Linked DNA regions of Homo sapiens. The protein of the gene in region 1 interacts with the protein of each later gene in a biochemical or structural test. Each region holds a gene or a part of one and is shown on either strand. Other genes may lie near its edges. The genes, in order: USP1, NMRAL1 and BCAT2.

Region 1 (2,782 bases):
ACCTCCACCTCCCGGGTTCAAGCGATCCTCCTGCCTCAGCCTCCCGAGTAGCTGTGATTACAGGCATGCACCACCACACCCGGCTAATTTTGTATTTTTACTGGAGACAGGGTTTCTCCATGTTGGTCAGGCTGGTCTTGAACTCCGACCTCAGGTGATCTGCCCGCCTCAGCCTCCCAAAGTCTTGGGATTACAGGCTTAAGCCACTGTGCCCGGCCTACAACTGACTTCTTTTAAAGACAGTAATTTCATAGTCAGTTTTATCTTTACAGGGACCTTAAATTTCATTAATAGGGTACCTCTAATAAGCTAATAATGCTAATAAGCTGATCTATGAAAATGGAACTGTTATTCATGATATACTTTATTTAAATGGAAAATTGGTTATTTGGACTATAATGAGAAACTAATCTGTATAGACTTACATTTTCCTATTTTCATTTTAGGTGAAGAACAAATTGGTTTTGAGCTAGTGGAGAAATTATTTCAAGGTCAGCTGGTATTAAGGACGCGTTGCTTGGAATGTGAAAGTTTAACAGAAAGAAGAGAAGATTTTCAAGACATCAGTGTGCCAGTACAAGAAGATGAGCTTTCCAAAGTAGAGGAGAGTTCTGAAAGTAAGCAAAATTGGAGTCTTGTGTGGACCATGATGGAATATTTATAATTCTTTAACAACACAAAGTTTAATAGTAGCTGGTGTAATTAGGGAGGGGAAAAAAGCTAGCTTTTAGTGTCTAATGTAACCTTTCTGCTTATCTGGCTTCACTTATAAATGGTTAGCATTTGGGAAATTGTGACATCTTGATTTTGATGTAGAGTGTGTTAGAATGGAAAACTGAAATGCTTTAATAAGTGTACTTTTGGGAACCTGAGTCTTTCAGAGCTACTGAGGGTTTTTTTTAATTTTTTTGAGATGGAGTCTTGCTCGGTTGCCCAGGCTGGAGTGCAGTGGCGTGATCTCGGCTCACTGCAAGCTCCGCCTTCTGGGTTCATGCCATTCTCCTGCCTCAGCCTCCTGAGTAGCTGGGACTGCAGGTGCCCACCACCACGCCCGGCTAATTTTTTGTATTTTTAGTAGAGACGGGGTTTCACCATGTTAGCCAGGATGGTCTCAATCTCCTGACCTCGTGATCCGCCCGCCTTGGCCTCCCAAAGTGCTGGGATTACAGGCGTGAGCCACCGCGCCTGGCCTACTGAGGTTGTTTTTAACACAATAATTGAGCCACTGTTGTGTCTAGAGCATACCACAAAATATGGAAATACCATAGGAAATAATCATGAGACAGGTTTACCTATCACATATTGAAAGTTGGCAATTAAATGTAAACAGACTAGGCTTATTTTGTTTTTGCTGTCTATCATATTTTTTGGCCGATCAAATATATTTAAAAGGTATGTATACTGTTGAGGATGCACTTATGAAAGTAGTTTCTGAAAGTAAAAATCTCTTTAGTTATTTAGGAATGGGTCGGTCAATTGAAATTAAATGCTAATTTTGAACCTGAAACTTTGTGGTTTATTTTTTGAATGCCTGAGAGAAGTATTTGAGTGAAAGGATTCTCTTTTTTAGTTTCTCCAGAGCCAAAAACAGAAATGAAGACCCTGAGATGGGCAATTTCACAATTTGCTTCAGTAGAAAGGATTGTAGGAGAAGATAAATATTTCTGTGAAAACTGCCATCATTATACTGAAGCTGAACGAAGTCTTTTGTTTGACAAAATGCCTGAAGTTATAACTATTCATTTGAAGTGCTTTGCTGCTAGTGGTTTGGAGTAAGTATTGTAAATAAGAACTATATGAAGAAAATGAGCTGCTGTAGAAGATAAGTCTTGTTCAAAATGCTGTAATAGTAGGAATATAAAGTACTGAAATGAAGTAGATTGTAAAGATTGCTTCAGTAAAGTTTTGTTCTTATTAACAGTTTCCCTGTAAAAATGAAACAACTTAAATCCTTTTGATATGAATACATATTCTATTAAGTATGATTTCTTCTCCTTTTTTTTTTGAAACAGGGTCTCATTCCAGTTGTCCAGGCTGGAGTGTAGTGGCACAGCCTCAGCTCACTGCAGTCTTGACCTCCCAGGCTCAGGTGGTTCTCCCACCTCAGCCTTCTGAGTAGCTGGGACTACAGGTGCATGCCACCATGCCCAGCTAATTTTTTGTATTTTTAGTAGAGACAGGATTTCACCATGTTGCCCAGTCTGATCTTGAACTTCTGGACTCAAGCAATCCACCTGCCTTAGCCTCACAAAGTGCTGGGATTACAGGCGTGAGCCACCATGCCCGGCCAGTTTCTTTATTCATCTTTTCATATTCATTCCCTCTTAGATGTTAGTAGCAGAATTCAGTAGAACTGACTAAAGCAGGGAACAAATTTTGTATACATCAAGATTTTTTTGAAGGGGCGGGAAAGGCTAAATTCTTCCTAGTTTTAAGGTAAGCCAGGAAATCAAACTAGTCTTTCAACAGTTTGAAAAAAAATGCTGATTGTTTTGGATAGTCTGTTTTTTTCTGACATGTGTAATGTCATTGTATGTGTGACTCCTTTGTACATTAGTTGCTTGTTTGAAATTACCACGAGGGCTTCACAGTAGCTCTCTCACACTTGATTATGTCAAAAGATAACATATAGCCCCTTATTCAGTGGACCTTCCCTTTGCTAATAGTATAAAATACTATTTTATTTACTTTCCCAAATTTTGGTAGAGAAAAACTTCACACTAAAAATGACTAAAATGGGCTGGGCGTGGGTGGCTCACACCTGTAATCCTAGCACTTTGGG
Region 2 (3,586 bases), on another chromosome or scaffold:
GAGAAGCCCATATCTCCCCCGCCTCCCTGCAGAGCCTGTCTCCAGTTCACATGTGCAGATGGCCTCACTAGCTCTGGAGATGAAAGGGGTGTGTCAGAAGCTCGGCTCCTGGGGCTCCTCTGTGTCCTGTGCTATGTCCCCGTCTGTGAATGAATTTCAAATGTGGGAACAGAGGCTGCTGGTCAGAGCTGTTCTGCTAGCTGAGGTCAGAACAGGCCACTTCACACCTGTCTGACTAAACACGTTTAGGTCACTCGTCCCAGTCACCAAGTGATCCCTTCAGCCTTGGACCCTCCCTTACTGCTGTGTTGGTACAGCCCTGGAGCCACCCCTTACTGCTGTGTTGGTACAACCCCGGGTCCCCTCACTTACTGCTGTGTTGGTACAGCCCTGGACCCCCCCCCCCCGCTCCAACTTACTGCTGTGTTGGTACAGCCCCGGACCCTCCCCAACCACTTACTGTTGTGTTGGTACACAACTACCACCCCAACCCAAGTCCTGGAAGCAGAGTCCTCTTCTCCTGGAAGCCATCTGGGAGAACAATGGCTTTATTCAGATGTTGGTGCCTCTGCCCCTCTGGTGCCCCCGATCCCCACAAGGGGCCGCGAGGCGGGCAGGTCACAGCAGGTTGAAGTCCCCTTTGTGCTGTTCCAGCCACTGGTCCAGCGTCAGGGCCTTGGGGTTGAGTCTCAGGGTCAGCTCGATGTCACGGTCGGGTCTCAGGGCATAGAAACGGAACATGTTGGCCAGGTCCCGGGCACCGGGAAAGCCAAGCTTTTCGTAGTCCTCAGGAGTCATCTGGAAGCAGAGGAGCCTGTCGTGGCCGGCGTCCTCCAGTGCCCCGGGAGGTGGCGGGGCAGGGAGGCCGGATGGGCTGGGGTCTCCCGACCTGCTACACCCAGAGCCACTATTGTCTCGGTCCCTGACCCAGGTCCTCCGTACAAGGTCATTTGAAAACTTCTAAGAGCCGAAAGTTCAGAAACTGCTGCTCTCCTGAGCTGCCTGACATTGTAGATCAGTTTAAAGATTGTTCTTGGCCAGATGCTGTGGCTCATGCCCGTAATCCCTGCACTTTGGGAGGCTGAGGCAGGCAAATCTCTTGAGGCCAGGAGTTCGAGACCAGCGTGGCCAACACGATAAAACCCCGTCTCTTTCAAAAATACAAAAATTAGCCAGCCTGGTGGTAGGTGCGTGTAATCCCAGCTACTTAGGAGGCTGAGACAGGAGAATCGCTTGAAACCAGGAGGTGGAGGTTGCAGTGAGCTGAGATCACCCCACTGTACTCCAGCCTGGGCAACAAGAGTGAGACCCTGTCTCAAAAATGAATAAATAAAAAGACTATTATTTTCAGATCATGAGACGAAAATATCTCAGTCCCTTCCAAATCAGAGACCTGCCTGCATCACTTTCTTTCTCAAAAACCAAAGCTTGACCAGACACAGTGGCTCACACCTGTCATCCCAGCACTTTGGGAGGTGGAGGTGGGAGGATCGCTTGAGCCCAGGAGTTAGGCCCACCACGCCGGGCTAATTTTTTGTATTTTTAGTAGAGACGGGGTTTCACCGTGTTAGTCAGGATGGTCTCGATTTCCTGACCTTGTAATTGCCCGCCTCAGCCTCCCAAAGTGCTAGGATTACAGGTGTGAGCTACCGCGCCTGACCCAACTTTCGTCTTTTAAGGACTCCAGTGTTTCCCAGATTCTTTTTTTTTTTTGGAGTTGGAGTCTCGCTCTGTCGCCCAGTCTGGAGTGCAGTGGCATCTCGGCTCGCTGCAAACTCTGCCTCCTGAGTTCAAGCGATTCTCTTGCCTCAGCCTCCCAAGTAGCTGGGATTACAGGCGCCTGCCACCACACCCGGCTAATTTGTTTATTTTTAGTAGAGATGGGGTTTCACCCTGTTGGCCAGGCTGGTCTCAAACTCCTGACCTCAGGTGATCCACCTGCCTCGGCCTCCCAAAGTGCTGGGATTACAGGCGTGAGCTACTGCACCCAGCCTCCCAGATTCTTTAATGAGTATGTCTTACTTTCCTAATGGTAATGACAAACATTAGAAACCAGGTACCCAAGAGTCTGTCCAGTAGGCCTCCTGCCCACCCAGCCAGGCCAATGGGGGCAGGGGTCGGCCCTATCTTTCTAGCCTCTTTCCCTTTAAATCCCCTCCCACAGGGGAGGGGTCGGGTCTATCTTTCCAGACTCTTTTCTCTTCAAATTCCCTCCCACAGAGGAGCCCGGCAGGGCCTGCATTTTCACCCCTCCTTGCCTTGGCTCCTATGGCCCTCTCCTCCTGGAAGCTTTTCTCTCTATTTGGTCAAAACATCTAAGCCAGAAATTTCACTCTGTGGCCAGTTAGCTCCTGGAACAGCAGAAAATAAACGTTGACGATGAACGAATGAATTTAGATGTACTGCCCAGAGGTGTGGGCAGCCCTGGACACACCCTCCCTACGGGAGCTAGAAAGCCCTGACAAGGATGCCTGAGTCACCTGGGGCGGGAGGCCCACCTTGGCATCGTGCACGACCTTGCGGGTGTGCTTGGTGAGCAGGGCAGCGTACTCCTCGGCCGTGTGCCTGCAAGTGCTCAGCCCGATGTTCTGGCCGACGTATTTTTCTGGCATCTTCAAAAGGCTGAGCACCACAGGACCCAGGTCAGACACGGACATGCCATCCATGGGAACGTCACCTGTGGGCAAGCCTGTGGGGCAGAGACGTGAGCTGGTATATGTCCCGAGGGCAGACAGGGGCAGGGACAGAGCCCCTCTCCAAAGGGTCCAAGCTGGTTCTTCCCAGCAGTCAGCTGCACACTCCAGCACTCGGGCATAGCTAAGACAAGTCTTGCTATTTGTGGTAGCACAGAGGCAGCAGTGGAATTGAGTCAGGAAACGGGATGGAATCCGGGTACTGCCACCTAGGGCAGGCTGTTGAGGCTCTCTGAGCCTGGGTTGCTGCATTCCTAGAATGGGGCTAAGAACCTGGGCCTGCCCAGCTCTCTCAGCGCTAGGATGACAGAGAAGGGACAAAGGAAAAGGACTCTGAAAGCTGCTACAGAGAGTGTGGCTGGAGCCCAGGGTCTCCGCTAATCTGGAGGCACCAGCCTGAAGTACTCTGTCATATCCTAGATTCCTGGAAGCTGGAACGTCCACCTCTGAGTAGATACTCCAAATACCAACTCACTTACCAGGAATCCTGATTAACCAGACACCAACGGCTGGCCTAGAGCAGCACGTCCATGATAAATGCTTCATAAATCCTGAATGAATGAATGACTCGCAAACTTCCAGGCTGAGGTTTTGTAGATGGGGAGGCTGGCAACTGTCTGGGTGTGGCCTGTGGAATGCTTGGGTCCTATCCTCCTTACCTAGAGACAGGGGCCAGTGCAGCTTCCTGTTCAGATCACCTGGGAGCTCGAGGGCACAGAGCGCACAGACCGGAGCAGGAGATATCCCTGACTGCAGGTTTTTTTTTTTTTTTTTTTTTGAGATGGAGTCTCGCTCTGTCGCCCAGGCTGGAGTGCAGTGGCGCAATCTTGGCTCACCACAAGCTCCACCTCCCGGGTTCACACCATTCTCCTGCCTCAGCCTCCCGAGTAGCT
Region 3 (3,654 bases), on another chromosome or scaffold:
AGACAGGGTCTCACTCTGTCACCCAGGCTGGAGTGCAGTGGCGTGATCTCTGCTGATTGCAACCTCCGCCTCCCAGGTCCAAGTGATTCTTGTGCCTCGGCCTCCTGGGTAGCTGGGATTACAGGCGCCCACCACCACGCCCAGCTAATTTTTGTATTTTTAGTTGATCCACCCGCCTCAGCCTCCCAAAGTGCTAGGATTACAGGGGTGAGCCACTGCACCCAGCCAGACTTTTTTTTTTTTTCCCATAGTGGGTTTTTGATGAATGAATAGATAAATGAATGGAAGACAAGCAAAACTAGCTACAATATTTTGGGGGGATAAAAACCACCACCACAAAAATGAGGGGCAAGATGGGGCAGGGGCAGGGAGTAGCCATATCAGGTAGTAAAACATTATAAATCTACAATACTTAAAACAGAGTGACACTGCTATATGAGTGGACAGACTGAATAATGGAATAGATAACCAAATATCCATCTAGAGAAAAACTACGTTGAATCTCTATTTCACACCTCACACCAGAAAAAATTCCAGGTGCATTAAAAGTCTAAACAAAATATATATATATATATTACACCATAAAAGCTATAGAAGGAAACAAAAATAACTGTTTTATATCTTGGATTGGGAATTTTATTTTTTATTTTATTTGAGATGGAGTCTCACTCTGTTGCCCAGGCTGAAGTGCTCTATCTTGGCTCACTGCAACCTCTACCTCCCAGGTTCAAGCAATTCTTTTGCCTCAACCTCCCAAGTAGCTGGGATTACAGGTGCCTACAACCACGCCCGGCTAATTTTTGTGTTTTTGGTAGAGACGGGGTTTCACCACGTTGGCCAGGCTGGTCTTGAACTCCTGACCTCAGGTGATGCGCCCACCTCGGCCTCCCAAAGTGCTGGGATTACAGGCGTGAGCCACCACGACTGGACTTTTTTTTTTTTTCCAATTTCTTGTACAGATAGGGTCTTACTATGTTGCCCAGGCTGGTCTTGAACTCCTGAGCTCAAGCAATCCCCCTGCCTCTTCTTCCCAGCCCCAGATGAATTTTTTAAAACCTAACCTGATAGAAAAATCAGCCTAGCAAATGGACAGTTCACACAAAAGGAAATACAGGTGGCCCTTAAGCTCGTGAGAAGATAGTCAATTTCATTAATCACTAGGGAGAAAAATGCAAATTAAAATTAGTTTGAGATACCTTTAAAACCACATGGGAGATTGGAAAAGATCTAAAACTTGGACAAGGGTTGTCCAAGGTATGGAAACAGGCTCTGCTGGTGGGTGTGGAAACTGACACACCCTGTAGATGTAGATGTGGCGATACGTATCAAGATTACAAGCATACATATCCTTTGACCTACAGTTCCCGAAATTGAGCCTCTAGATACATTTGCACTTAAACAAGTGACTAAAGAAGGGACGTGTGTACTGGATTCCTTTTTTTTTTTTTTTTTTTTTTTTGAGATGGAGTCTCACTCTGCCACCCAGGCTGGAGTGCAGTGGCGCAATCTCGGCTCACTGCAACCTCCGCCTCCCGGGTTCAAGCAATTCTCCTGCCTCAGCCTCCCGAGTACCTGGGATTACAGGCACCCGCCACCACACCCAGCTAATTTTTGTATATTTAGTAGAGATGGGGTTTCACCATGTTGGCAAAGCTGGTCTTGAACTCCTGACCTCAGGTGACCCACCTGCCTCAGCCTCCCAAAGTGCTGGGATTGCAGGTGAGCCATCACAGCCGGCCCTGTACTAGATTCTTTATTGCAAAATTGTTTATAATAGACTGGAAACAACCTAAGTGTCCAACAGTAGGGGATTGCCTAAGGAGGTGCATTGTTAGGATGATACAGCATGAGGCTGCAAGAAAGATGGAAAAAGCTCTTTAAGCTTTAAGGTATAGAGAAGAATTTCCAGGCCCAGTATGATGGCTCATACCTGTAACCCCAGAACTGGGAGGCTAAGGTGGGAGAATTGCTTGAAGCCAGGAGTTCGAGACCAGCCTGGGCAACAAAGTGAGATCCTGTCTTTGCACAAGATTTAAAAATTAACTGGGCAAGGTGGTGTGTGCCTGTAGTCCTAGCCACTCGGGAGGCAGAGGCAGGAGGATCACTTGAGCCTAGGAGGCGGAGGTTGCAGTGAGCTGAGACCATGCCACTGCACTCCAGCCTGGGAAACAGAGCAAGACACCGTCTCAAAAACAAAACAAAACAAAACCCAGGTAAAAGAGCCCGGATACACCGGATATAGTGGCTCATGCCTGCAATCCCAGGACTTTGGGAGGCTGAGGCAGGAGGATCACTTGAGCTTAGAAATCTGAGATCACCCTGGGCAACATAACAAGACCCCATCCCTAAAAAAAAATAAAATAAAATAAAAATTAGCTGGGCATGGTGGTGCACACCTGCAGTCCCAGCTACTTGGAAGGCTGACGCAGGTGGATCGCTGGAGCCTGGGAGGTCAAGGCTGCAGTGAGCCAAGATCGTGCCACTGCACTCCAGCCTGGGCTACAGAGCAAGACCCTTTCTCAAAAAAAGAGTCATAACAACAACAACAAAAATGCAGGTGGCCAGGCTTGGTGACTCACGCCTGTAATCCCAGCACTTTGGGAGGCCGAAGCAGGTGGATCACTTGAGCTCAGGAGTTCAAAACCAGCCTGGGTAACATGGTGAAACCCCATCCCTATTATTTAAAGATAATAAATAAACAAATACAGGTAGACAAAGACAGAAAGCAGACTAATGGTTGTCATGGGCTGGGGTGAGGGACAATGGGTACTGATTAATAGGTATGGGGGATTAAACAGTTCTGAACCTTGATGGTGCTGATGGTTGCATAACATTGCCTGCCACTGAATTATGGGCTTTAAAATGGTTGGAGGCTGGGCGCCGTGGCTCACGCCAGTAATCCCAGCCCTTTGGGAGGATGAGGCGGTGGATCATCTGAGGTCGGGAGTTTGAGACCAGCCTGGCCAACGTGGTGAAACCGTGTCTCTACTAAATATACAAAAATTAGCCAATAGTGGTGCATGTCTATAATCCCAGCTACTCAGGAGGCTGAGGCAGGAGAATCACTTGAACCTGGGAGGCAGAGGTTGCAGTGAGCCAAGATTGTGCCACTGCACTCCAGCCTGGGCAACAAGAGTGAAACTCTATCTCATAAATAAATAAACAAACAAACAAACAAATAAAATGGTTGGAATCCCACATTTGATGCTGTGTGTTATTATGTATGCGTATTAGTACCACAATAATAAAAAATAAGGCCAGGCATGGTGGCTCACGCCTGCAATCCCAGCACTTTGGGAGGCTGAGGTGGGCAGATCACTTGAGGCCAGGAGTTCGAAAACAGCCTGGCCAACATGGTGAAACCCTGGCTTTACTAAAAATACAAAAATTAGCCGGGTGTGGTGGCGGGCGCCTGTAATCCCAGCTACTGGGGAGGCTGAGGCAGGAGAATCACTTGAACCCGGGAGGCGGAGGTTGCAGTGAGCGAGATTGTATCATTGCACTCCAACCTGGGGGACAGAGTGAGACTCTGTCTCTAAATAAATAAATAAGAAAAAATAAAATAAAAAATAATACACGTGGTCGGCCTGCAATCCACACATGCCCTGGAGTGTGGGTGACATAGGGACAGCATTGTCCTACTCCCTCATCCTC

The links.
Region 2: the proteins of USP1 (region 1) and NMRAL1 form a complex in vitro, tested with the Homo sapiens proteins (one study listed by BioGRID).
Region 3: the proteins of USP1 (region 1) and BCAT2 form a complex in vitro, tested with the Homo sapiens proteins (one study listed by BioGRID).

Annotation. Positions count from the first base shown.
Region 1 is NC_000001.11:62,446,895-62,449,676, forward strand, and holds part of USP1 (ubiquitin carboxyl-terminal hydrolase 1), read left to right. Parts: intron 1-446; coding exon 447-617; intron 618-1,570; coding exon 1,571-1,772; intron 1,773-2,782. UniProt on the Homo sapiens protein: Negative regulator of DNA damage repair which specifically deubiquitinates monoubiquitinated FANCD2. Also involved in PCNA-mediated translesion synthesis (TLS) by deubiquitinating monoubiquitinated PCNA.
Region 2 is NC_000016.10:4,461,162-4,464,747, forward strand, and holds the end of NMRAL1 (nmrA-like family domain-containing protein 1), read right to left. Parts: intron 2,690-3,586; coding exon 2,499-2,689; coding exon of another isoform or gene 2,481-2,498; intron 2,352-2,480; coding exon of another isoform or gene 2,316-2,351; exon of another isoform or gene 2,259-2,315; intron 799-2,258; coding exon 619-798; 3' UTR 533-618; downstream 1-532. UniProt on the Homo sapiens protein: Redox sensor protein. Undergoes restructuring and subcellular redistribution in response to changes in intracellular NADPH/NADP(+) levels.
Region 3 is NC_000019.10:48,801,007-48,804,660, forward strand, and holds part of BCAT2 (branched-chain-amino-acid aminotransferase, mitochondrial isoform a precursor), read right to left. Parts: intron 1-3,654. UniProt on the Homo sapiens protein: Catalyzes the first reaction in the catabolism of the essential branched chain amino acids leucine, isoleucine, and valine. May also function as a transporter of branched chain alpha-keto acids.